7 linked regions of the Homo sapiens genome follow. The protein of the gene in region 1 purifies or fractionates together with the protein of each later gene. This does not show direct contact. Each region holds a gene or a part of one and is shown in the gene's direction. Other genes may lie near its edges. The genes, in order: SLFN11, NUP210, FLNB, EIF3L, SPTAN1, NUP88 and EIF3B.

Region 1 (3,500 bases):
TGAATTTGTTTATCAGTTCTAATAGTTATCTGGTATAGTCTTTAGGTTTTTTTCAAATGTAAGATCATATCACCTGCAAACAAGGACAATTTGACTTCTTCCTTTCCAATTTAGATGCCCTTTATTTCTTTCTCTTGTCTAATTGCTCTAGCTAGGATTTCTATGTTGAATAACAATGGTGAAAGTGAGGATCCTTATAGTGTTCCAGATCTTAGAGGAAAGGCTTTCAGTGTTTCCCTACTCAGTATGCTACTAGCTGTAGGTCTGTCATACATGGATTTTATTATGTTGTGGTATGTTCCTTCTATACCCAGTTTTTTGAGGAGTTTTCCATGAAGGGATAATGAGTTTTATTAAGTGCTTTCTCAGCATCAGTTGAAATGATCATATGGCATTTGTCCTTCATTCTGTTGATATGATGTATCACATTGACTGATTTGCATACGTTGAACCATCCTTGCATCCCTGAAATAAATAGCACTTAGTCATGATAAATGATCTTTTTAATGTATTGTTGAATTAAGTTTGCTAGTATTTTGCTGAGATACTGGTCCATAATTTTTTTTCTTTGATGTGTCTTTGGTTTTGGTATCAGTAATACTGGCCTTATAGAATGAGTTTGTAAGTATTCCCTCCTTCTCTAATTTTTGAATAGTTTGGGTAAGATTGATATTAGTTCTTCTTTAACTGTTTGGTAGAATTCAGTGGTGAAGCCATCGGGTCCCAGACTTTTCTTTGCTGGAGACTTTTTATTATGGCTTTGTTCTCATTACTTCTTATTGGTTTGTGCGGGTTTTGGGTTTCTTCATGGTTCAATCTTGGTAGGTTGTATGTGTCTAAGAATTTATTTCCTCTAGATTTTCCAATTTATTGGCATACAGTTGCTCATAGTAGCCACTAATGATCCTTTGAATTTCTGCAGTATCAGTTGTATTGTCTCCTTTTTCATCTCTGATTTCATTTATTTGGGTATTCTCCTTTTTTTCTCAGGTAGCCTGGTAAAGGTTTGTCAATTTTGTTTATCTTTTCAAACAATCAACAGGTGGTGAAGCCAGCCAAGCTGTGTTCTTTTCTTCAGAGTGGCAAGTTCCCCCAGGCCCTAGGTGGGTTCACAGATGCTATCCAGGAGCCAGGGACTGGAGTAAGAAAACCTTAGAAGTCTACCTGGTGTTCCATTCTACTGGGACTGAGCTGGCCCTCAAATCATGAGACACAGTCCTTCCCATTCTTCCCTCCTTTTTCCACAGGCAGAGGAGATGACCCTGTGGCCAACACAACCACGGGTTCACAGGGAGTACTGTTAGCTATTGCTGATATTCACTTAAAGCCCAAGGGCTCTTTAGTCAACTGGTGGTGAATGCTACCAGGTCTGGGACTCACTCTTCAGGACAGTGGACTCCCCTCTGGCCCAGGTTGGGTCCAGAAATGCTGTCCAAGGGCCTACTTGTTGCTCTACCCCTGTGGCTAAGCTGGTACCTACGGTGCAAGACAAAGTCCCCTTTACTTTTCCCTCTGCTTTTCTCAAGCAGAAAGAGTCTCTGCCTGTATGCACCACAGCTGGGGTTGTGCTGAGTCTCACCTGAAGCCAGCAGAGTCTCACCCAAGACCCACGGCATATTACCTGGGTATCGTTGCTGATTATTCAGGGACCAAGGGCTCTTTAGTCAGCAGGTGATAGATCCTGCCAGGACTGGGTCTTTCCCTTTAAGGCAGCAGTTTCTCTTCTGGCCCAGAGTGTGTCTAGAAATGTTGTCCAGGAGATAGGGTCTGGAATGGGTGTCTCATGACCCTGACCAATGTGCTATCCTACTGTGTCTGAGCTGACATCCAAGATGCAAGACAGAAGTCCTCTTTAGTCTTCTCTCTTCTCTCCTCAAATGGAAGGAAGGGATCTTTTTGGAGCTGAGAGTCACACTGTCTGGGGTTGGGGGAGGGGTGGTGCAAGCACTCTCTTAGTCGCCCCAGCTGGTATCTCAGTAGGTCGTGTGCCCTCCAAGCCTACTGGCTCTGATCTCAGCTCAGGGCTAGGACTTGCCTAGGAGTTTCAGTCCTTGTGGCCTAGAATGCCTTTCAAGTTTATTTAGAACCCCCTAGCACTTCAGCTACAGTGGCGAGGCTTGCTGAAACTCAGGTTTCAACTGCTGGGATGGACAATTTCCATCTCACTAGGGCTGGTCCAAATTCTGCCTCCATGGGCAGGTATATGCTGGATTCAGCATGGTTTTGCTTTTCACTGTAACAGGGCAGTACTGAGTTCAATGCAAAGTCTCACAATTGCTGTGCCCTCCCTTCCCCAAGCACACAGATTTCTCTGCACCACATGGTCACTGCTGGAGAAGGGGGATGGTAGGTGGAGCCTTCTATTACACCGTCTTGTTCTGCCCTCCCATTTCCCTTTCTGTTCAGTTTCTATCTGAGGCTAGCCAATCCCCTGTGATCTAGGGGAGATGGGTGGGAGGATGGAAGGAAAGGGGAAGTAAAACAAAAAAATAAGAACCACCCAGAAGCATACAGAAAATTGGGCACTACTTGACAATTTGACATTGCAAAGTTTTCCCAGGCTAATTCCTCACCTTTTAGGGAGTTTGCTGAGCAAACTAGGTAAGCCTTCTTGGCAGGGGAGAAATGCACAGATGCTACCCACTGAGCCCCTCGCTTGGGGGTGGTTGTCCCTGCATGTCCACATCAGAGTCACTGCTCCATCAGGGGTCCTGCAGGACTAGATCCTGGGGCATGGGGAGAAATGGGGACAGCTAATAAATGGAAACCGTACAGCTAATAAATGGAAACCATACAGCTAATAAATGGAAACCATACAGCTAATAAATGGAAACCGTACAGCTAATAAATGGCAGAGCTGAGATTTGAACCTAGGAAAACTGAGTCTTAATCCTTGAACTCTGTTACCTCTGTCTACATAGGTTTCTGTATACATAGCCTTCAGGACTGCTTTTGGTGGAAAGAGATAGCAGGTGGTGCTAATTCACTGTGTTGGTGGGAACTCTGGCTACACTGAAAGGTTTGAAAAAGTTATCCTGTAAACTGACTAGAATCAGGTGCTTTTGTTTCTGAAGTGCTTTTGTAAGTGTACTGAGTTTCTTTTCTGAATTCTTAATTTCTTATTGACTTAGTTTAATTTTATTTAGGATTTCAAATTTATATGGGACAATATCTCTACCTTACAAAAAATGTGCAAGTGATGCTGATTATAATTCCTTTAATCCTAAGGAAAGAGCTTGAGATAGAGCTCCCTAAGCCTTTTTTGCCTGCAAAAGAATCTAAGCAGATGGTGGGGTTGCTGTTTAAATACAATTGCCAACCAAAAACTATAATCTATTGGCTTTGACAATAAAGTTTATGGGGCAGAGAAAATATTTAACTTTGAAATCCCTGTACATCGAAAGGAATATTTTACAAATAACTTGACAAAGATGTTTCAATGGTCTTGGAATGCAGAATGGAATTTTGAGAAATAGAAATTTGTAGGCAAGGGTCTAAAC
Region 2 (3,500 bases), on another chromosome or scaffold:
TAGGTGTAGAGTTCTGTGGCATGAAGTACGTTCACAATTGTTGTGCAGCCACCTCCACCATCCACCTTCAGAACTCTTTCATCTTCCCAAATGGACACTCTGTACCCATTAAATAGCAACTCCCTATTTTCTCCTGCTCGGGCCTTGGCCAACACCATCTTTTCATTGTACTCTTTGATGTTTGCCTGTCTCCCAAGAGAACAGGCAGACGCCTAGAGTCTTTGCAGGTAGCAGCTTCCCCCCAGGACTTACTGACACTGCTTTGAGTCATCTGGATGGATGACAAATGCTGTGATATTCTTATTTACACTAGTGTGTAAGGTTTCCTTTTTTGTTTGTTTGTTTTTTTTTTTGAGACAGAGTCTTGCTCTGTCGCCCAGGCTGGAGTGCAGTGGTGCGATCTTGGCTCACTGCAAGCTCCGCCTCCCGGGTTCATGCCATTCTCCTGCCTCAGCCTCCCATGTACCTGGGACTACAGGCGCCTGCCACCACGCCCGGCTAACTTTTTTTTGTATTTTTAGTAGAGATGGGGTTTCACCATGTTAGCCAGGATGGTCTCGATCTCCTGACCTCGTGATCCGCCCGTCTCGGCCTCCCAAAGTGCTGGGATTACAGGTGTGAGCCACCGCGCCCGGCCTCAAGCAATTCTTCTGCCTCATCCTCCTGAGTAGCTGGGGCTACCGGCATGTGCCAACACGCCTGGCTAATTTTAGTATTTTTAGTAGAGACGGGGTTTCACCATATTGGCCAGGCTAGTCTCGAACTCCTGACCTCGTGATCTGCCTGCCTCGGCCTCCCAAAGTGCTGGGATTACAGGCGTGAGCTACTGTGCCTGGCTTTTTTTCTTTTTTTGAGACAGAGTCTTGCTCTGTTGATCAGGTTGGAGTGCAGTGGCCTGATCTCGGCTCACTGCAAGCTCCGCCTCCTGGGTTCACGCCATTCTCCTGCCTCAGCCTCCTAAGTAGCTGGGACTACAGGTGCCCGCCACCATGCCCAGCTAATTTTTTGTATTTTTAGTAGAGACGGGGTTTCACCATGTTAGCCAGGATGGTCTTGCTCTCCTGACCTCATGATCCACCTGCCTCAGCCTCCCTTTTTTTTTTTTAATTGAGATGGAGTCTTGCTGTATTGCCTGGGCTGGAGTACAGTGGCAAGATCTTGGCTCACAGCAACCTCTGCTGCCCAGGTTCAAGCGATTCTCCTGCCTCAGCCTCCTGAGTAGCTGAGATTACAGGCATCCACCACCATGCCCGGCTAATTTTTGTGTTTTTAGTAGAAACGGGATTTCGCCATGTTGGCCAGGCTGGTCTCGAACTCCCGACCTCAGGTGATCAGCCCTCCTCTGCCTCCCAAAGTGCTGGGATTACAGGTGTGAGCCACCACACCTGGCCAAGGTTTCCTTTTAAAGTAATTTTTTAGTAAAGAAGAATCCATTTAATACAATAATAAGAAAAGGGCCGAGCATGGTGGCTCATGCCTATAATCCCAGCACTTTGGGAGGTTGAGGCAGGAGGATCGCTTAAGCTCAGGAGTTTAAGACCAGCCTGGGCAACATAGCGAAACCCTGTCTCTACTAAAAAAAAAAAAAAAAGAAAAGGAAAATAAAGCTGGGTGTGGCACAGGCACCTGTGGTCCCAGCTACTCCTGAGGCTGAGGCAGGAGGATTGCTTAAACCCAGAAGGTCAAGGCTGCAGTGATCCATGATTGTACCACTCTACTCCAGCCTGGGCAACAGAGTGAGAGCCTGTCTATTAAAAAAACTAGGCCGGGTGCAGTGGCTGGCCAGATGCAGTGGCTCATGCCTGTAATCCCAGCACTTTGGGAGGCCGAGGAGGGCGGATCACCTGAGGTCAGGAGTTCGAGCCCAGCCTGGCCAATATGGTGAAACCCCATCTCTACTAAAAATACAAAAAAAATAGCTGGGCGTGGTGCTGGGCGCTTATAATGCCAGCTACCTGGGAGGCTGAGGCAGGAGAATTGCTTGAACCCGGGAGGCGGAGGTGGCAGTGAGCTGAGATTGCATCACTGCACTCCAGCCTGGGTGATAAGAGTGAAACTGTCTCAAATAAATAAATAAGTAAATAAACGAATACAAGTCATACCTGTATGTGACTGGGCTAGGGCAGGTGTCCAACCAAGAGGAGCCTGATGGTGGGGAGGGGCCGTCGGCAGGTGCAGGTGTCTAGGCAACTGCCCTTCCTGGCCACAGCCTGCAGGTCCAGAGGCAGGGGCTTCCAGTGTTGCAGAGGAGATGTGGGGGTGGTGACAGGGGGGATGGACAGAGGGAGCCAAAATGAAAGAACCAATTTTTCTGTTAATCCCTTTGCATACTATGCCCCCACTTAATCCTAAAAATGAACAATAAACAAAACTCCTTTGGTAAGAATGACTGCACTGTACAAATGAGGAGCCTGGGTCCAAGAGCCTCACAGCTGGTTAGTGGCAGAGCTGTGTCCAAAACCAGCCTCAGATCCAGAACCACACTCACTCTCAGATGCCTGGGGAAATGCGCCACCCTTCTCAGATGATTGTTGGTTTACCCAGTTTCCTTCAGCTGGATTTTAAAACTTCAGTAGTACTTTTATTTTTCTGAGACAGATTCTTGCTCTATCACCCAGGCTGCAGTGCAGTGGCACAATTATAGCTCACTATAACCTCAAACTCCTGGGCTCAAGTGATCCTCCCTCCTCAGCCTTTAGAGTAGTTGGGACTATAGATGTGAGCCACCACGCCCAGCTAATTTTTAAAATTTTTATTTATTATTATTATTTTTTAGAGACTCACTATTGCACAGGTTAGTTTCAAACTACTGGCCTCAAGCAATCCTCCTACCTTGGCCTCCCAAAGTGCTGGGACTAAAGGTGCATGCCACCACACCTGGCTAATTTTTTTTTTTTTTTTTTTTGAGACAGAGTCTTGCTCTGTCACCCAGGCTGGAGTGCAGTGGTGCCATTTCAGCTCACTGCCAGCTCCGCCTCCTGGGTTCACACCATTCTCCTGCCTCAGCCTCCCAAGTAGCTGGGACTACAGGCGTCTGCCACCACGCCCGGCTAATTTTTTGTATTTTTTAATGGAGACGGGGTTTCACCATGTTAGCCGGGATGGTCTCGATCTCCTGACCTCGTGATCCACCCGCCTCGGCCTCCCAAAGTGCTGGGATTACAGGTGTGAGCCACCGTGCCCGGCCTTTTTGTTTTTTTTTTTAGAAATGGGGTCTCACTGTTGCTTAGTCTGGTCTCAAACTCCTGGTCTCAAGTGATCCTCCTACCTTGGCCTCCCAAAGTGTTAGGGTTACAGGCATAAGCCACCATGCCTGGCCCAGTGGTGCTTTTAAAAATCAGTATTGGCCAGGCACAGTGGCTCACGCCTGTAATCCCAGCACTTTGGGAGGCCAAGGTGGGCGGATCACCTGAGGTCAGGAGTTTGAGACCAGCCTGACCAATATGGAGAAACCTCATTTCTGCTAAAAATACAAAATTAGCTGGGTATGGTGCTACATG
Region 3 (3,500 bases), on another chromosome or scaffold:
CAAACGGAAATACAGATATATAAGAGAGTGTCTTCCCAGCCTTCCCTCATGTGGACGAACCATTACATATTTGACCATTTCCCTATTGGAGGGCATTTTGGTTCTTCCTGCCCTCGCTGTCCCCAGTGTTGCTGCGCAAATCGACTTTTCCCCTAGTCACCTCACACTCACAAAGATGTATCTGTGAGATTTAGTTACCAGAGGAGGCAATGCTAGGGCCCCAGTGCAGGCATCTATGATTTTGACAGATCTTGCCAAATTGCCCTTCAGAGGGGCTGTTGCAGTTCACACGCCCTCTGGCCATGGAGAAGAGCACCTTCTTTTCCACAAAATTTGCCAGTAGAATATGGTATCAAATTTTTGGAGCTTTGCCAGTCTGATGGTTGGAAAGAAACAGAATCTCAGCGTTGCTTTATTTGTATTTCTCTTGTGAATGAGACCACACAACTTTCCCTATGTCTATTTGTATTTCTTTTTCTGTGAACTGAACATTTGGATCCACGGCCTGTTTTTCTATTTGGTTATTGGCCTTTGTCATATAGTTTCTAAGAGCAATGTAAACATTGGAGAGATTAGCCCTTTGTGGTAGGAGTTGCAAATGTTTCTCTGAGATTGGCATTTACTTTAGTTGTCTGTATGTAATATTGGTTTAAAGCAAAAATGTATTATCTGCTTCTATTTAAATATTCTAAAGCGGCAGATGGAGAGAGAGGAAAAAATGTCTTTCTCACATCTGCCATCCACTTCCACTGCTGGTGTGAGTTGTGTATCTTTTCAGATGTTTCTCTCTGTATCTACAAACATACATATAATTTTATTCTATTTTGTTTTTAAAGGAATAGCATAATGGTATTCATAGTTTATAGCAACTTGCTTTTTTTCTTTTTAATGCATCATATTATGGATAATTTCTCAAGTCAGTAAACATGGGTCTTCCTCACTCTTTTTAATGGCCCATGAGTAGATCAGCATTTATTTAACCGGTCCCCTGTTGTGAACACTTAGGTCTTTTCCTGATGTGCACCCGAACACTGCAGAAATGAAAGTGCTTACATAGGGCTAGGAGTCGGGGTGGGCAGAGAAGACCACTGTGGGGTTGATTCCTTACAGGTTGAATGGCATGGGCAAATGGCCTTCCAAAAGCCCTTTCCACTTACCTTCCCTCTGGCCATGGGTCCTTTCACCACCCAGTGCAAAAGTTTCTTCCTTATTTGTCAGGTTGGGCTGGTACCTTACCTTAGCCCCCTTCCTCATCTGGAGCAGCTTCCAGGATTGTTTTTCTTATGTTGTGATTGAAGGAATAATACTGCGTAGACCCTCTCTGATGTCCTAGGATGGCGGGGGATGGGAGGTGCATGTGCATCTCCTTCTGTCTCTTCATGCCTCTGCTTAGGAGGCGCCAGACCTGTAGAGAGGTGGACGTCAAGATGCCAGTTGTCCAGGGTCTTCGTTCACCCCTTAATGAGCACCAATTTTGTTTGTGTCCTTCGTAAACCCAGAGAGCCCACTCCAGTTCTACGTGAACTACCCCAACAGTGGAAGTGTTTCTGCATACGGTCCAGGCCTCGTGTATGGAGTGGCCAACAAAACTGCCACCTTCACCATCGTCACAGAGGATGCAGGAGAAGGTACTGTGTGGTTTACGTGTTTATACGCCTCCAGCTGTCCATTTGGAGGGTGAAGTGGACACGGTTCCAGGGTGGCTTTTAAAAGTGAGACAATCGAATGGTAGTATTTGTCTTGTCTTTTCTCTCGTGTAAATCTGTTTCTTCTTTAGAGCCGCTTCGTCTTCTACCCAGACAGACATTTTTGAAGTCCTTTGTGTTCTAACTGAAATCAGATTCATGCTATGAAATACTTTATGTGACTTGTCTGGAATTTAAGTGTGTTTTGGTTGGTGATGTTTTTGTTCTTGTTGCACATGTATCCACAAGACCACATGACTTACTGAGTGGCTCTTTTTGATAAAGCTGTGTGCCCATTCCCGTGGTATTCATGGATAATCCCAAATCTGTGGTTCTAATGGGATTTCCGTGATGGCAGCCAGTGCCTGATGGGCAGGGACAATCCACCTCTGCCCTCCACCACCCACCGTCTCCTATGTGTAATTGATGTACACGGCTCCTTCCTTTTCTCATCCCATGCATCCTGAGAGTAGAGAGAGCTCCAGGGTTACTTGCAGTGAAGAACTCAGATGTTTGGGGTTTCTTCTCAGTGGGTGTTTTTACTGCGTGGACTGCTTCATTCTGACAGATGTCCCTTTGCCCACAGCTCACGTGGAGTGCGTCAATCCATTGTCCCCAGCATCAGGGCTGCCCTGGATGAGTTGTTAAAAGGAAACTCTTAAAACAAGGCAACTCTCTCCCTAACACCCCTGCATCCCTGTTCCCACTTGTAGGTGGTCTGGACTTGGCTATTGAGGGCCCCTCAAAAGCAGAAATCAGCTGCATTGACAATAAAGATGGGACATGCACAGTGACCTACCTGCCGACTCTGCCAGGCGACTACAGCATTCTGGTCAAGTACAATGACAAGCACATCCCTGGCAGCCCCTTCACAGCCAAGATCACAGGTAGGGTTGTCTGGCTTCTGGGGTCTTCCTCGTGGGAAGTATGGCTGCCTCTGACTGCCACCCTCCTTATCAGACCCCTGGCAGCAGGCTAGACGTCTCTTTGAGTTTAGGTTTCACAGAGACTTGTTGAGGAGGAGCAGGGGATGGAATGCAATTTTGGATTAGCTAAATCCTTCTCTTGCTGATAATCCAGGAAAATGCGAGAGCTAGTATTTGGAGCACACTTTTATTGTGCCAGTGTGACTCTAGGGTGCAAAGAGAAAGCTCTCAGATGGAGTGTTCGAATCATACTTACTGCAATAGTGCATGAAGTGCATGAGCTTAGACATGCCCTTCAGCGTCACTACTAGGTAAATTTTCTGCTATCCCTTTTACAGATGGGAAAACTGAGGCTTGGCAAGGTAGTGGTGTAGCCAAGTTCACATATAGGTAAACAGATCCAGGTTATCAAATTCCAAAGCCCATGCTCCTCACCTTGCTGTGTTCAGGTTATGCTTTCAGTGGGTTATAAGGAAGATGCACAAGGCAGATCCTGTTTCCCCACCGTATTTAGACCTGTCTGTGAAGCAGCCAGTAGTACTGTGTGGAATGTGGTCATTGTTTACCTAGAAATGCCCACAGCCATGCCAGGCAGGTATGAGGTGCCTTCAACTAACAAAAATTCCTATATTTTATTTTATTTTTGAGACAGAGTCTCACTCTATCACCCAGGCTGGAGTTTTAGTGGCATGATCTCGGCTCACTGTGACCTCTACCTCCTGGGTTCAAGCGATTCTCCTGCCTCAGCCTCCTGAATAGCTGGGATTACAGCACCCACCACCACACCCAGCTTATTTTTGTATTTTTAATAGAGATGAAGTTTCACCATGTTGGACAGGCTGGTCTTGAACTCCTGACCTCAAGTGATTCGTCTGCCTCAGCCTCTCAA
Region 4 (3,500 bases), on another chromosome or scaffold:
TCAGAGCAAGCTGAACTCCGCAGGTTTTGAGGGGCTGCCGTTGTGTAATGAGCGTTAGAGATAAGATAGGTCAGTCAAAGCTGGGATAGTCAGGAGTGACTTCACCAAGGAAATAGAATTTAAGCAAGTCAGAAGGATGAGGGAGAGAAAACAAATAGCCAAAGGCCTATTGATCAATGAATAGGATCTCTGACATGTGTTTTCTTTTTTTGTTGTTTTGAAAGAGCTGATTGTAGTTGAAAAGCAGAGGAAACCTCAGACATTGCATGGTTTTAGGCCTCACCCCTGCCACTCTCGTGAGCCTAAGTTCTACTTGGTGTGGACTCCAAGGTCCTTCCCGCCCCTGCAAGCCACCCATTAGGTTGAGCTGAGAGATCAGCCAATGGGAACAGAGTCACTTATGACCAAGAAGAATTGATCTGGGGGTTAGTTAGTGAGGAGAGAGAAAGGGAGAAAACCTTGTTCGGAGGTTGAACACCTCCAGCCGAAGAAGGTGCAGCATCGAGGTCTTTCACCACTAGCAAATGGATCCAAGTCATGCGGCACCAAAAGAGGTTAGCAGCTGAAGGGTGTTGAAGTGACACAACACCAAAACATGCTACCAATGATGAATCCGTATCTGTACAGGTCTCCAGCAGCCTCAGTTCTTGCCTCCTCAAAAGAAAGAATTCGACTGAGGGGTAAAATGCTACCGATGATGAGTCCGTATCTGTACAGGTCTACAGCAGCCTCAGTTCTTGCCTCCTCACAAGAAAGAATTACACTGAGGGCTAAAATGCTACTGATGATGAGTCTGTATCTGTACGGGTCGACAGCATCCTCAGTTCTTGACTCCTAACAAGAAAGAATTCGACTGAGGGGCACAAGGCAGAAGAAGAGAGGGAGGCAAGTTTGAGAGCAGGAGTGAAAGTTTATTAAAAAGCTTTAGAACAGGAATGAAAGAAAGGAAAGGACAGTTGGAAGAGGGCCAGGTGGGTGACCTGAAAGGCAAGTGTGCTGAACTGTGTTTTCTTTATTCCCCGGGTCTTTTCTGATTAGAAGTATATAAATCAGCGCCTACAAAAATTAGCTGGGGCATGGTGGCAGCATGCCTATAGTCCCAGCTAGTTGGGAGGCTGAGGTGGGAGGATCACTTGAGCCTGGGAGGTTGAGGCTGCAGTGAGCTGCACAATGGAGCGAGACCCTCTCTCAAAATTAAAAAATGGACCTGATGTTCAATAGAAATGTAGCTAGACATTAATTTTAATTTTTCAGCCAAGCGAAGTGGAGATTTATTTAAAATATTATTTCTATATGTAATCAGTATTTAAAAATTAAGGGGATATTTGCCCTTTTTTTTCTTTATACTTAAAGTTTCCTAAATCCAGTGTGTATCAGAAATACTTGCTTTGTGTTTAGATTTTATAGAGTTTATGACTGGAAAAGTAATTCAAATTTGAAATTTGAATCTTCAAATAGTAGAGTAATTCCAAATAGACCTAAAAGTTTTCCAATACTGAGTTAAGTGTTGGTTTTTAAACTTAAATGGCAACTAACTGAAATTTAAAATTTAACTCTTTGCTTATATAGTAGCCACATGTAGCTAGTGGCTATTGCATTGGGCAGTGCCCGCAGATACAGATGACAGTTGAAGCCAAGCATCTTGTAAGTCTTTCTCTAGGAGAATGTGAGAAGAAATGCTGGTGCCTTAAGAAGTATGTTTCTTTAGGGATGGGTGGGCAGGCAAAGAAAGGATCTAGTAAAGGAGGCAGAAAGAAAAGTGAAAAGTAGATAGTAAATTGGCAAAGAAATGTCACAGGAACCAAAAAGTCTGCAGAAGAAACTGAGGAAGAGAGTATCACCAAATGTTTTAGTGAGGTCCAGATGAGAAAAAAAGCCAGTTGAATTTGGTAACTTGGAGGGCCTTGATAACCTTAGCAAGGTCAATGTCAGTAGAGTGATGGAAGCAACAGCCAGAGAGCAGTGGGGTGAGAAAGGGGAATTGGTAAGTATCGGGGACATAAAGGGTCACTGAGTGGCTTTGTGTTTTGTTTCTGTGTTTTTTCTGTTTTTGTTTTTTGTTTTTTGAGACAGGATTTCGCTCTTGTTGCCCAGGCTAGAGTGCAATGGCGCAATCTCAGCTCATCGCAACCTCCGCCTCCTGGCTCCAAGCGATTCTCCTGCCTCAGCTTCCCAAGTAGTTGGGATTATAGGTGTGCACCACCATGCCTGGCTAATTTTGTATTTTTAGTGGAGACGGGGTTTCACCGTGTTGGTCAGGCTGGTCTGGAACTCCTAACCTCAAGTGATCCACCCGCCTCAGCCTCCCAAAGTGTTGAGATTACGGGTGTGAGCCAGCGCGCCTGGCCTGTTTCAGTGTTTCTTTTCTGTTCTGTTTCTGTGTTTCTCCCCAACCCCCATCCCGTAGAGACAGGGCCTTCCTATATTGTCCAGGCTTGTCTTGAATTCCTGGGTTCAAGCGATACCCCTATCTTGTCCTCCCAAAGTGTTGAGATTACAGGCGTGAGCCATCATGCCTGGCCTGTTCAGTGTTTTTTAGGGGAACTTGAGCATGTTTATATGTTGGACTAAAAGAGCCAGAGAAGCAGGAGGGGTGGGGCTTGAGGAGATTGGAGGAAAGTATTAATAGCTGCTGAGGGCATCAGGAGAAGAAAATTAAACAACCTGTTGCAGGTTTGTCAAGTAGCAGTGTTTGGATTGGATAGGCAGCAGTGTTTAAATTGGATGCTGTAGGTCTGTTGTGGCCTTGGACTGCAGCAGACTGATTTGCTTCTGTGTTTAGAGACGTTTGGATGTGCTCCAGGAGATGGAAACGCTGTGTTAAAGAATGGTGGCCAAAAAAGTAGTTCTTATAGCAGAAAACAGCAAGCAGTTAAATATGGCTATAGTTAATGATACAGAGGCAGGAGATTATCCTGAAAAGCTTGATGGGTCCCTAACTGATACAAAAACAATATTTTCTTGTGTTGAGAAAGATTGAAGTGTGGAGTTGGGTTGAGGACAGTTGTGGGCTTGAAGGGCTTTGGCCTCAGCTCTGTTTATTTGACATCTTCCCCTTTCTAAGCCTGGGTCCTCATCTGTAAAATGTTAGGATTGGCATTCTCCAGTCCTTTTGGAATTTTAGAGATTTTTTTCTTGATTTTTAGCTGGACCAAGCTGACTGAAAGATTCTTCAAGAATACACCTTGGCCCGAGGCTGAAGCCATTGCTCCACAGGTTGGCAATGGTAGGTGTGAGCTCTTTATATCTTGTGCACTGAGTGGAATCCAGTGGCTGAGTCATTAGACAGGAAGCTCAAGAGGGTCTGTGTCTGTTTTGCTCACCATTTTGTTTCCTTGGTGCTTGGTATGTAGTAGGTCCTTGGCAAAATAACTTGTCGAAGGCTGGATGATTTAAGAGAGGACAGAGATCTCTCATATATGGTGAAATTTAGATCTTTGTACTGACTTGTTTCTATTTCCTTCTATAATTTGGGGGTCATTACAGTCACTCTGGAATAA
Region 5 (3,500 bases), on another chromosome or scaffold:
CGCAGTGATCTGCGGTCTGAAGGAGAGCAGGAAAGGGGGCATGTGTGACTGAGTCTCAGCAGTGTCCAGGTGGACAGTTTGGCTTGGGCATCTGGGGGACATGCTGGTGCCATCTGAGCCTAGGAAGAGCAAGTTCCAGTCCTGTGGAGTCACCACAAATTGGCTTGTCACTCCTTGTTCAGGAAACTTTTGACGCTGGGCTGCAGGCCTTCCAGCAGGAAGGCATTGCCAACATCACTGCCCTCAAAGATCAGCTTCTCGCCGCCAAACACGTTCAGTCCAAGGCCATCGAGGCCCGGCACGCCTCCCTCATGAAGAGGTGGAGCCAGCTTCTGGCCAACTCAGCCGCCCGCAAGAAGAAGCTTCTGGAGGCTCAGAGTCACTTCCGCAAGGTGAGGATGGGGCCACGTGAAGCTTAGCTGGCCCACAGCTCAAGGAAGGACGCCCACCTTCTGTCTGCCCAGCTCTGCCACTCCCCCTTGAGGAAGCTGTGAGCTCAGTGCAGAGCTTTCAAACATGGGTGTGGCTGGCATCAATTAAAACCAGGGCAAATGAGAGGGCCCTGTGAGATCGCCATTCAGAAGCACGCAGGACAGACTAGAGACAAGGGCAAAGGGTAGGAAGGGGAAAAAAGGCTGGTGAAGACTTGAAGGGGGAGCAGGAGACAGGAGCAGAGGGGAGCTAAGCTCCCAGCAGGCTGTGTGCGCCTCTGATTCCCAGGAACCACCCCGCACCCCACCTCCTGCACTGCGTCGGCACGTCCAGCCCTGGCGACTCCGCCAACTCAGTCTCTTCTGCTTCCAGGTGGAGGACCTCTTCCTGACCTTCGCCAAAAAGGCTTCTGCCTTCAACAGCTGGTTTGAAAATGCAGAGGAGGACTTAACAGACCCCGTGCGCTGCAACTCCTTGGAAGAAATCAAAGCTTTGCGCGAGGCCCACGACGCCTTCCGCTCCTCCCTCAGCTCTGCCCAGGCTGACTTCAACCAGCTGGCCGAGCTGGACCGCCAGATCAAGAGCTTCCGCGTAGCCTCCAACCCCTACACCTGGTTTACCATGGAGGCCCTGGAGGAGACCTGGAGGAACCTACAGAAAATCATCAAGGTACACCTCCCGCTGCCCTCAGGAGCTGCTCGGCCTCCCAGAGCCCTCTCTGGGCCCTGCTCAGAGCCCACACTTAACTGAGTCACGACAAGACGAGCAGGATGGAGGAGCATGGTTTCATCAGAAGTTTCATTTCTTTTTGTGTTCTTGAGGCAGGGTCTCTGTCACCCAGGCTTCAGTGCAGTGGTGCTACCATGGCTCCCTGTAGCCTCAACCTCCCAGGCTCAGGTGATCCTCTTGCCTGAGCCTCTTGAATAACTGGGACTACAAGCACGTGCCACCACGCCTGGCTAATTATTTTAATTTTTGTAGACAGGGTGTTGCTATGTTGCCCAGGCTGGTCTTCAACTCCTGGCCTCAAGCAGTCCTCCTGCCCAGGCCTCCCAAAGTGCTGGGATTACAGGTGTGAGCCACTGTACCCAGCCAGAAGTTTCCATTTCTGACAGTCCAGCAACTCCCTGCTTGACTGACCAGTCGCTTCCCTCCAGGTCCGCCTCTTCCTTGAAGCCCCTGGGGGGTGGGAACAGAGAAAGAACTACCAAGTGCTCTGAGCCGGCCTCATGTCTCCCAGCCTCCTCCTCTCATCTTTGGGGAGGTTCCTTGTGGGGAGGCCACCACCACCCTGAGCCCATCTGTGAAGGAGGGGCTGGTGTCACTGCCACAGCAGCGCACAGCATCTGCCCCCCTTTGGCCCTCAGGAGAGGGAGCTGGAGCTGCAGAAGGAACAGCGGCGGCAGGAGGAGAACGACAAGCTGCGCCAGGAGTTTGCCCAGCACGCCAACGCCTTCCACCAGTGGATCCAAGAGACCAGGTGCCAGCCCGCTGGGGCCGGGGAGCAGCAGCATGTCCCTGCTGTACTTAAGCCCTGGGGAGCTTCCAGCCCCAAGGAGGTGGTGGTGCTTTGTGTAAAACCAGAGGCAGCCTGGGAATAAAGCTGGGCTGGCAACGCCTGGTCGGGCTCTGGAGCCGGGAGTGGGGGCATAGGTGGAGCAGCCTCTCAGTGCTGCATGTCCCAGACATCAAGTTGTTAGAGATCCCGGATTGAGTGGGACCATGCAGGGCGCGTGGTCAGCCCCAGCCATGACTTGGTGACAGACGATGCAGGGTCTGTGCGTTGGGTACTGATGTTCTTGCTTTTGTTTTCCTTTCTTTCTTGTGTCTTCTCTCTGTCCCCCCGATTGCTGCTGTTGTCCGGACACCACCTTGTCTCCCGGCTGCTTGGATCTGCTCTCCACAGGACATACCTCCTCGATGGGTTAATATTGTTTTCTTCCTTCTCTGGGCTTGTCATGTGGGGGTCTCGTGCGCTTGCCCCTCGTGGCCTGGCTTGTGGAGGATCCCGGGATGGGCCTTCCTGCCCAGGGCGGGCTGCACTTCCCCTCCCACCCTTCTCGTCACCTGATGAGGAGTGTGTGCCTTGCCCCATAGCCCATGGTCCCTGGTCCCCGATAGAGCCTTCAAGCCAGGGGGAGCCGTCCTTGCCTCACTGGGCGATTCCAAGGGCTCACTTTGGGTAGGGAAGGTGATGAAGCACGAAGGCCAGAGCTGGAGTCCAGAGGCCCTAAGAACCCCCGTGCCTGTCCAGCCACCGGGCTCTGTTGGGCTCTCACCTCTGCTTCCCCAGCGAGTCCAACAGTGGTCAGTGGGCATGAAGCAGATGGCAGTGCTGGGGGCTCAGGCAGGGTACAGTAAGTCCACAGCTGAGAAGGGCTGGGCACTGACACCCCCTAAGTAGCTGAGGCTGCCACTTTACTTTCCTGGGGTCAGGGAGGGTAACAAGACTGTCCGCCCTAATAGAAGGCAAAAATGCACCCGTTATGTGATAGACAGGACGTGGGAGGAGCCCCAGGGAGGAGCAGGGCTGGGCTGTCCCGCCCAGTCCCGGCAGGGACTTCTCTGCTTGGCCTGGGGCCTCTGCCTGGCCGGGTCACCTTTGTAATCTGCCAAGCCTGCTGTGAAAGCCAGGGCTGCTGGGACTGGAGTGGCTTGGCCTGCACTCCTGAGGCTCTGCACCCAGGCACATCAAGCCTGTATAGGCGGCCAGGGGAGAAATAGACCCATCCAGCCGGGCCACACATTCTGATGGCAGAGCAGCTGGGGACGTAGGGATCGCAGTTTCCGGCCTGTGCCCGTAGGACACCCTGGCCACCTGACTCCCCTCCCTGCCCCATGCCTGTGTCTGCTGGTCTTGCTCTTGTCTCCGTGAGGTGCCACGCTCCCCTCACCTTATGGCTCCTCCCAAGCCCTGCCCATCTTGCCCATTCCTAGTGTGAGCTGCCTGGGGTGAACCACTGGGCCTGCTGCCTCCAGGTACCCGCCGGGCACCAGGTTGCCCTTGCCTGCGCCCTGCCAGCTTGGGCTTTGTGTGTGTCTGTTGCAGTGTGCTCTTGCCTCCCCTC
Region 6 (3,500 bases), about 30 Mb from region 1:
GAATGACAGTTCCCATCTGAGGTCTCAGTTTCCAGTGTCTTCACTGAAGTGGGAAGGAAGACTGAGAGAGATACACGCTGTGCGTGCCAAGTGATTTCCTGTGACATTGACATTGGGCCTCATTGAGAGAGACTCGGTAGTTCTGTTCATTCAACAGTTTCTAAGCACTTAATTTGTTAGCACTGGGCTAGGCAAACAAAGATAGCTGGGGCTTATGTGCAAGTTGGAGAGATCTTCAGTGTAACGTGTAACTTTTGAGATTACAGTCAGCAGCACGCTACAGTTAGGGATTCCTGAGTGACTTAGTCACATGGGCTCTAGACTTTAGTGTGGAGCTGCATTAAAGGTTTCCAAGCCACCACTTTTGAGGTTATGGTACTGATAGGATGTCCCAAGCAACTTCAGCCCAGGCCTGAGAAGGCCGCGGACCTGTCATGTCTTTGCTCTTGGTTCCATTGCATTTGCTGCTTTGTAATTTAACTATGACTGTGTTTTTCCAGGCAGCCAGCTCCAATTCGAGGATTTTGGATTGTACCTGACATTCTGGGACCCACGATGATCTGCATCACCAGTACCTATGAATGCCTCATATGGCCGTTATTGTACGTCCCATTTTATATTCTCCACACAGCTCTTGTTAATTCTGCAATATCTAAGTTGGGAAAATGCACTCAGTAACCAACTTGAAGCTATACATGTGTGGTTTATACTTTGGCTTCTGACTTGAGGGTTGGAAGGATGGATATTTCTGTTCCTGCCATCATCTCTATAAGGTTTCATTGTAGGTATAGTTTCTGGCATCCCCTGCACCTAGCTGAGAGTCAGGAGCTTTTCTTCAGAGTGTGGAGAAAAAATACTAAAATTGAATACCAAATTCCATTATCGATATGAGTAATAATTATCAAGCTGTGACCATACGCCAAGCTCAGAAGTAAGCCACGTACCCGCACTGCCTCCTGGAATCATCAGGGCAGCCCTGTAAGGAAGGCACTGTCATTTCCATTTTATAAAAGTGGAAACGGGGATCGAGAGGTTAGTAAATGCTGAAGTCACAGGTAACAAATAGAGCTGGGATACAGATGCAGGTCTCATTGACTCAGAAGTCCATACTCATACTCTTTAATTTCTCCATCTCTGCCAGCCTGAGGGACACTGTAGACTATGTAAACTGGAATAAAGCTGAACTCAGGCTGGGTGCAGTGGTGGTTCATGCCTGTAATCCCAATGCTTTGGGAGGCCCAGAGTTCGAGATCAGCCTGGGCAAAACAGTGAGACCCCCATCTCTACAAAAAACAAAAAAATTAGCCAGGCATGGTGGTACACATCTGTAGTCCTAGCTGCTCAGGTGAGAGGATTGCTTAAGCCCAGGAGTTTTAGGCTGCAGTGAACCATGATCATGCCACTGCACTACAGCCTGGGTAACAGAGCAAGACCCTGTGTCTTTTAAAAAAAAAAACAAAAAAGCTGAACTCTTAGTCTTTGCTCCTTTAAGGAACTCAGATAATTAAGCTGTAATCACTATGTTCCTTTTCCAACAGCCCTGGAAGATCATTCTGAGTTACATAAATGTAGGAATATGAGTACCAAAAACAAAAGTCACTGGAGCTTCAAACACTAGACAACACCCCCACCCCTTGTCCGTTCAAAGCTTGCACCTCTGGATGCTGACATAAATTCCTAATACTGGCAGTAGTTTACTGTCCTTAGAGGATCTTCCATAGTCTTTGAAGCTTGATTAAGTTGTACTATCTGGATGTAAAAATAAATATAAATTTTGTGTTATTTACACTGAAGGCACTAAAAGCTAGCAAGACCAAACAAAAATAATAAAATCACTGGAGAAAAAATTACCTGTAAGTTACCTCAGCATACTTTTTAAACACCCACAGTACATTTAGTAAAATAAAACCTAGTCACACTAGCTTACTTCAGAATAAATATGAATCCCAAAGGGGAAAAATAAACATTAATTGTCTGGATATTTTTTTTTTTTTTTTTTGAGACGGAGTTTGCTGTGTTGCCCAAGCTGGAGGGCAGTGGCACGATCTCAGCTCACTGCAACCTCTGCCTCCCGGGTTCAAGTGATTCTCCTGCCTCAGCCTCCCTAGTAGCTGGGATTACAGGCGCACACCACATGCCCAGCTAATTTTTATATTTTTAGTAGAGATGAGGTTTTGCCATGTTGGCCAGGCTGGTCCTGAACTCCTGACCTCAGGTGATCCACCCACCTCGGCCTCCCAAAGTGCTGGGATTACAGGCATGAGCCACCGTGCCAGGCCAATTATCTGGATACTTTCAGATCATATTTCTGCCAACTCCCTGAAATACAAGTTGTCTATAAAGTTATGCTATTTCATGAACTTTCACTTTTTTTTTTTTTTTTTTTTGAGACAGAGTCTTGCTCTGTCACCCAGGCTGGAGTGCAGTGGTGTGATCTCAGCTCACTGCAACCTCCGCCTCCTGGGTTCAGGCGATTCTCATGCCTCAGCCACCCAAGTAGCTGGGATTACAGATGTGTGCCACCACACCCAGCTGATTTTTATATTTTTAGTAGAGACAGTTTTACCACGTTGGCCAGGCTTGTCTTGAACGCCTGACCTCAAGTGATCCACCTGCCTCGGCCTCCCAAAGTGCTGGGATTACAGGCGTGAGCCACCACGCCCAACCAAACATTCACGTTAGAATTGTTGCCTTCAGAGTAAGTCACTTGCCATGCTGCCGAAGTCTGTGAGATCTTTTAAGCTCTTTTTGAAGTTTGAGTATTTGCACTTGACTGAATAGTTTTTAGAAATGAAATTATATAGAACCAATATGGTATATACAGCAGTTTCTTGGCTTAATATTGGTTTTGATCAACTCTAAACCTAACAAATAAGTAATTTATGTTTGTGGCTCCGGCTTATAAACTGGCTTTCAAGTCCTTTGCCAAGAATCCATGCTAGGTGTTTGTGCTGCCTTGATCTTTTAGAAAAGAACTGGAAATGGCAGTCAGAAATGCTTTCACAAATCAGGGGCATTGGAATAATAAGGGTGTAGCTTCCCAAAGTGACCTTTTCAAGGTGGAAAACATGCATTCTTGCACTTTTACAAAAGTTACACTTTATTTTATATTCTGAAAGTTCTGGATTAATGTGGTTTCTGCTTTCCTGTAATACAGTAAATCACTCCATGGTAGAATTCAATTTACTTACTTATTTTGCAGAAGTACAGTCCATCCAGCGTCTCCTCCCCTGCTTTGTACTCGAGAAGATGTTGAAGTGGCAGAGTCTCCCCTCCGTGTTCTGGCTGAAACCCCAGATTCCTTTGAAAAGCATATTAGAAGCATTTTGCAACGTAGTGTTGCCAATCCAGCATTTTTGAAGTATGCAACCTTGGGCATAGCGGTTTTATGAATGGGTTCTCTTCTGTCTTCAGAATTACTGTGCATCCTTTCTGTCCTCATCTGTTTCATATACTTTTTACTGTGATAAATTTGGAAGAAACTGGATATATTTGATCAG
Region 7 (3,500 bases), on another chromosome or scaffold:
TGTGGATGTGGTCGAGATGAAAGGCAAGTTGTATTTTAGTCACTTTGAGGCGAATGGGGCCTACGTGCTGTTTTACTCTTGGCTTTAACACTTCCATGCGAGGGGTTGTCTGAGCAGCTGAGTCAGGACTGTGAGCCCTCACCATGAATAGTCATCTCCAGGTCACAGAACGTGTTTAGAGCCTGGGCAACATAGTGAGACCCTCTCTGTACAAAAAACAAATAAAAAAAATTAGCCAGGTGTGGTGGTGCGCACCGATAGTCCCAGCTGTTTGAGACGCTGAAGCGGGAGGATCACTTGAGCCCAGGAGCAGAGGTTGCAGTGAACTGAGATTGCGCCCCTGCACTCCAGCCTGGGTGACGGAGCAAGACCCTGTCTAAAAAAAAGAGAAAAGAGATTGAGCCTGTGTTCTTGTTTGGCTTTTTGTTTTGCCATGGAGAAAAGGAGGAAGGAAGGGTTAAAAATAGGTGAGAAAATGGGAAACATGGCCGCCCTTCCAGGCAGGGAGACCGGAGGTCAGGATCCCACTGTAGGTGCACACTGGGTGCGAGGGAAGCGGCATCCACAGCTGCTGACAATGTCGGGCTCCTGCGGTCCTGCTGTGGGTGTCCTGCTCTCAGGAAGGGAGCAGTTTCACGTAGGTCACTCCACACAAGTGGAAGCAGCTGTCTCTGAAACTCCAGGAATGTGCACCTTTCCTGCTGTTGCTTGCTCTCCCGTCCTTTTAATGAACTTTTACACGTCGGGGGATATTTCTCTGTGGTTGAATAGTGAACATTTTAACTGATCAAGAGCACTATGTTCTGAATTGACCAAAAAGGGAGGGGTCTGTTTTGTGCATTTTAGAAACCATCATAGCCTTTGCCTGGGAACCAAATGGAAGTAAGTTTGCTGTGCTGCACGGAGAGGCTCCGCGGATATCTGTGTCTTTCTACCACGTCAAAAACAACGGGAAGATTGAACTCATCAGTAAGTAACCTGGTCCCTTTCCTCTTCTGAGTAGGTCAGCACAGATGATGACCCAGTCGCTGCCCAACAGTGAGCATTTGACTGGCCTAGGACCACTGCTGGGCAGGCCGGGACTCGCCTATGAATGGGGTGTGGCCTCGGCTGATGGAAGTGAGCGATGGCCTGGAGGTGCCGCCTCCTTGCAGGGTGTCTCTCTGAGCCCCGTTGAGCCCTCACGTTTAAGCGAGTATTTCCAAGGCTTCCATTCTCTGCCATCATCTCAAGTGAAGCTTTTTCTCTTCTGGCTGTAGCTGCTGTCCCTGGGCTTGGGGTCACTTCCTGTGGACATACTCCTGCCAGTCCCCAGTCTGGGTCAGGTGCCTTTGACCAGGGTGCGCAGAGCTGTTGCACACAGCTGTACTCTGCCCCCGTGCACCCGGTTCCAGGGGTGCCACACTGCACCCACCTGGGGCTCGCTCCTCACAGTGGTGCGTGGGCCCTCGCCTGTCTCACGGCACCTGCTGCCTGTGCCCTCAGCTCCTCACTTCATCCTGGGGTCTCTGCTCAGCACAGAGCCCGGTGCCCGCGGGGATTGAATGAGCCATTGCTTGTTGCTTCATAGGCGTGGGGTGTGTGTGTGTGGTAGCCAGGAGGTGGCGATGGGCTGTGTTCCTCACACAGGACTCTGGCTGCCAGCTGCCCTCCTGCAGAGCCATGGGTTTGGCTCTGTACCAGGAAGGGGTTGGAATCTCCTGGCCGCACCTTTCGCAGCATGATTCTGTGAGGAGTTTAGTTTTCACTTTGCTAGAGCTTGGCAGGGTGCGTGGTGCCCTCAGTTGGCAGTGGATTACAAGATTGGCTGTTTCATTAATTCTGGTTGATAGAAACATATGGGCAATTGCAGACTGTCCAGAGACTTGTGTAAGTCTTCTAGGTCATAAAACATAGGCAAGCAGAGGCACCTTGTACCTTCCAAACATGCTGCGTGACACGCCTCTCCTGAGGTTTGGCATGGACGCTGGGGCCACCGCATGGGCTCCATCCCATGCCCGTGGCTGTTGGGGTTTTCGCTTGTGCAAGTCTGAGACCCCTGCCCCTGCCAGGGTGCACTGCCCTCCCACATCTCCTCCCCTCCTCCCCACGTCAGCCTGCCCCATGCCTCTTTTTTGGATGTACCACAGGCTGAGGGGAGAGAGGCCACAGGTTGTCAGCTCTGTTTGAGATGCAGGGAGCATATGCTCTGAGGGGGACTTGAGCCAGCCCCAGCTGGCCTTCACTTCTCACTGTTCCAGCGGCTCTGCCCGAGATCCATTCCGGAAGTAAGAGTTAGTACCTGCAAAGATGATGACTGTAGTCAGTTTCAACAAGCATACAGCTTATCCAAAGACGCCTTGTCGCTAGGAGAGTGGCTTTGGTCTTTTGGGGTCACACGTCTCTGACATCTCTCTGTTGGGGTCCCTGCAGCAGTGAACATTTGCTGTAAAGGGAATTCTTTGTCCAGTTACCTCAGGAAATAAGATAGTATTGTTTTGAAATACCCCTGTCGCATCTTCTTTTTTTTCCCATTTAAAGTATGGATCATGACTTAGGGGGTACTTGGCGATGGACTTTGTAAAATTGTTTTCCGAGGTGGTCCAGCATTACCAGCTCTGCCCTCATGGGCAGCATGAGCACGGCCAAGTCCTCCAGCCTTGGCTGCCCCGGCACTGTGGAAGCCCTCGCAGCTCGTGACAGGCGCGCTCTTTCCTTTCAGAGATGTTCGACAAGCAGCAGGCGAACACCATCTTCTGGAGCCCCCAAGGACAGTTCGTGGTGTTGGCGGGCCTGAGGAGGTAGGTGTCTGCGCTCTGAGCCTGTCCGCCCTGTGAGTAGCGCTCTGCTGTGGCAGAGACCCCTCAGGCGCCTGCACCCGGCTTCTTGGTAGAGAGAGTATTGTGCGCTGAAAGGGTTGCCCCAGTGTCAGTGGATAGGACTTCATTGAACCTCTGCAGACCCACGGTACTCCAGGACTCAGGCCAAGCCCGCACAGAGTGAAATAAGCGCTCCCAGATGCTTTCGTGAAGTGACCAGGCAGACCTGTCTGCGGGTTGTGGTTCTCTGTGGTTAAACAAGTGCCTTCCAGCCATCCAGTAACCTCCCCCCGGGGGTCAGTCCCTTGTCTTCTAGTGGGAAGGGTATTCGTTACACAGCTGTGAGGCTGCCTTACCTTTGTGGTTGGTGTCACGGTGTCGGTCTCAGCTGTGTTCCAGCAGTGTGTCGAAATCATGGAGAAGCTTCCAGCTTTCTGCTCTGAGTTAAAAGAATACCCTTTTGTTGCTGCTCTCCCTTGCTTCATTGTCCACACTTGCTACTGTATTTTTGGAGGCTTACTTAGCCTCAGATAACATTTCCAGTAAAAATAATATGATGGCAGTCATATGTAATACTCACTGCACACTCTGCATCTGTGATTTGGTAAGTCTCACAGCGGCCACCAGAGGCTGTTGCTGTGCTTGTTTCCATGTTAACGCCGAGGCTGGCTCCCTGGGGACCCCATGCCGCAGCACCTCTCA

Evidence for each region.
Region 2: the proteins of SLFN11 (region 1) and NUP210 purify together in Homo sapiens (affinity purification with mass spectrometry, with the first as the bait; one study listed by BioGRID). This does not show direct contact.
Region 3: the proteins of SLFN11 (region 1) and FLNB purify together in Homo sapiens (affinity purification with mass spectrometry, with the first as the bait; one study listed by BioGRID). This does not show direct contact.
Region 4: the proteins of SLFN11 (region 1) and EIF3L purify together in Homo sapiens (affinity purification with western blotting, with the first as the bait; one study listed by BioGRID). This does not show direct contact.
Region 5: the proteins of SLFN11 (region 1) and SPTAN1 purify together in Homo sapiens (affinity purification with mass spectrometry, with the first as the bait; one study listed by BioGRID). This does not show direct contact.
Region 6: the proteins of SLFN11 (region 1) and NUP88 purify together in Homo sapiens (affinity purification with mass spectrometry, with the first as the bait; one study listed by BioGRID). This does not show direct contact.
Region 7: the proteins of SLFN11 (region 1) and EIF3B purify together in Homo sapiens (affinity purification with western blotting; 2 studies listed by BioGRID, with this or other methods). This does not show direct contact.

What each region holds. Positions count from the first base shown.
Region 1 is NC_000017.11:35,367,122-35,370,621, reverse strand, and holds part of SLFN11 (schlafen family member 11), read left to right. Parts: intron 1-2,921; 5' UTR 2,922-3,019; exon of another isoform or gene 3,020-3,081; intron 3,082-3,500. UniProt on the Homo sapiens protein: Inhibitor of DNA replication that promotes cell death in response to DNA damage. Acts as a guardian of the genome by killing cells with defective replication.
Region 2 is NC_000003.12:13,410,323-13,413,822, reverse strand, and holds part of NUP210 (nuclear pore membrane glycoprotein 210 precursor), read left to right. Parts: intron 1-3,500. UniProt on the Homo sapiens protein: Nucleoporin essential for nuclear pore assembly and fusion, nuclear pore spacing, as well as structural integrity.
Region 3 is NC_000003.12:58,144,422-58,147,921, forward strand, and holds part of FLNB (filamin-B), read left to right. Parts: intron 1-1,499; coding exon 1,500-1,628; intron 1,629-2,398; coding exon 2,399-2,572; intron 2,573-3,500. UniProt on the Homo sapiens protein: Connects cell membrane constituents to the actin cytoskeleton. May promote orthogonal branching of actin filaments and links actin filaments to membrane glycoproteins. Anchors various transmembrane proteins to the actin cytoskeleton.
Region 4 is NC_000022.11:37,852,419-37,855,918, forward strand, and holds part of EIF3L (eukaryotic translation initiation factor 3 subunit L), read left to right. Parts: intron 1-3,146; coding exon 3,147-3,226; intron 3,227-3,500. UniProt on the Homo sapiens protein: Component of the eukaryotic translation initiation factor 3 (eIF-3) complex, which is required for several steps in the initiation of protein synthesis.
Region 5 is NC_000009.12:128,625,587-128,629,086, forward strand, and holds part of SPTAN1 (spectrin alpha chain, non-erythrocytic 1), read left to right. Parts: intron 1-182; coding exon 183-392; intron 393-804; coding exon 805-1,101; intron 1,102-1,417; coding exon of another isoform or gene 1,418-1,504; intron 1,505-1,799; coding exon 1,800-1,912; intron 1,913-2,338; coding exon 2,339-2,356; intron 2,357-3,500. UniProt on the Homo sapiens protein: Fodrin, which seems to be involved in secretion, interacts with calmodulin in a calcium-dependent manner and is thus candidate for the calcium-dependent movement of the cytoskeleton at the membrane.
Region 6 is NC_000017.11:5,388,663-5,392,162, reverse strand, and holds part of NUP88 (nuclear pore complex protein Nup88), read left to right. Parts: intron 1-500; coding exon 501-602; intron 603-3,202; coding exon 3,203-3,361; intron 3,362-3,500. UniProt on the Homo sapiens protein: Component of nuclear pore complex.
Region 7 is NC_000007.14:2,371,827-2,375,326, forward strand, and holds part of EIF3B (eukaryotic translation initiation factor 3 subunit B), read left to right. Parts: coding exon 1-23; intron 24-846; coding exon 847-969; intron 970-2,701; coding exon 2,702-2,780; intron 2,781-3,500.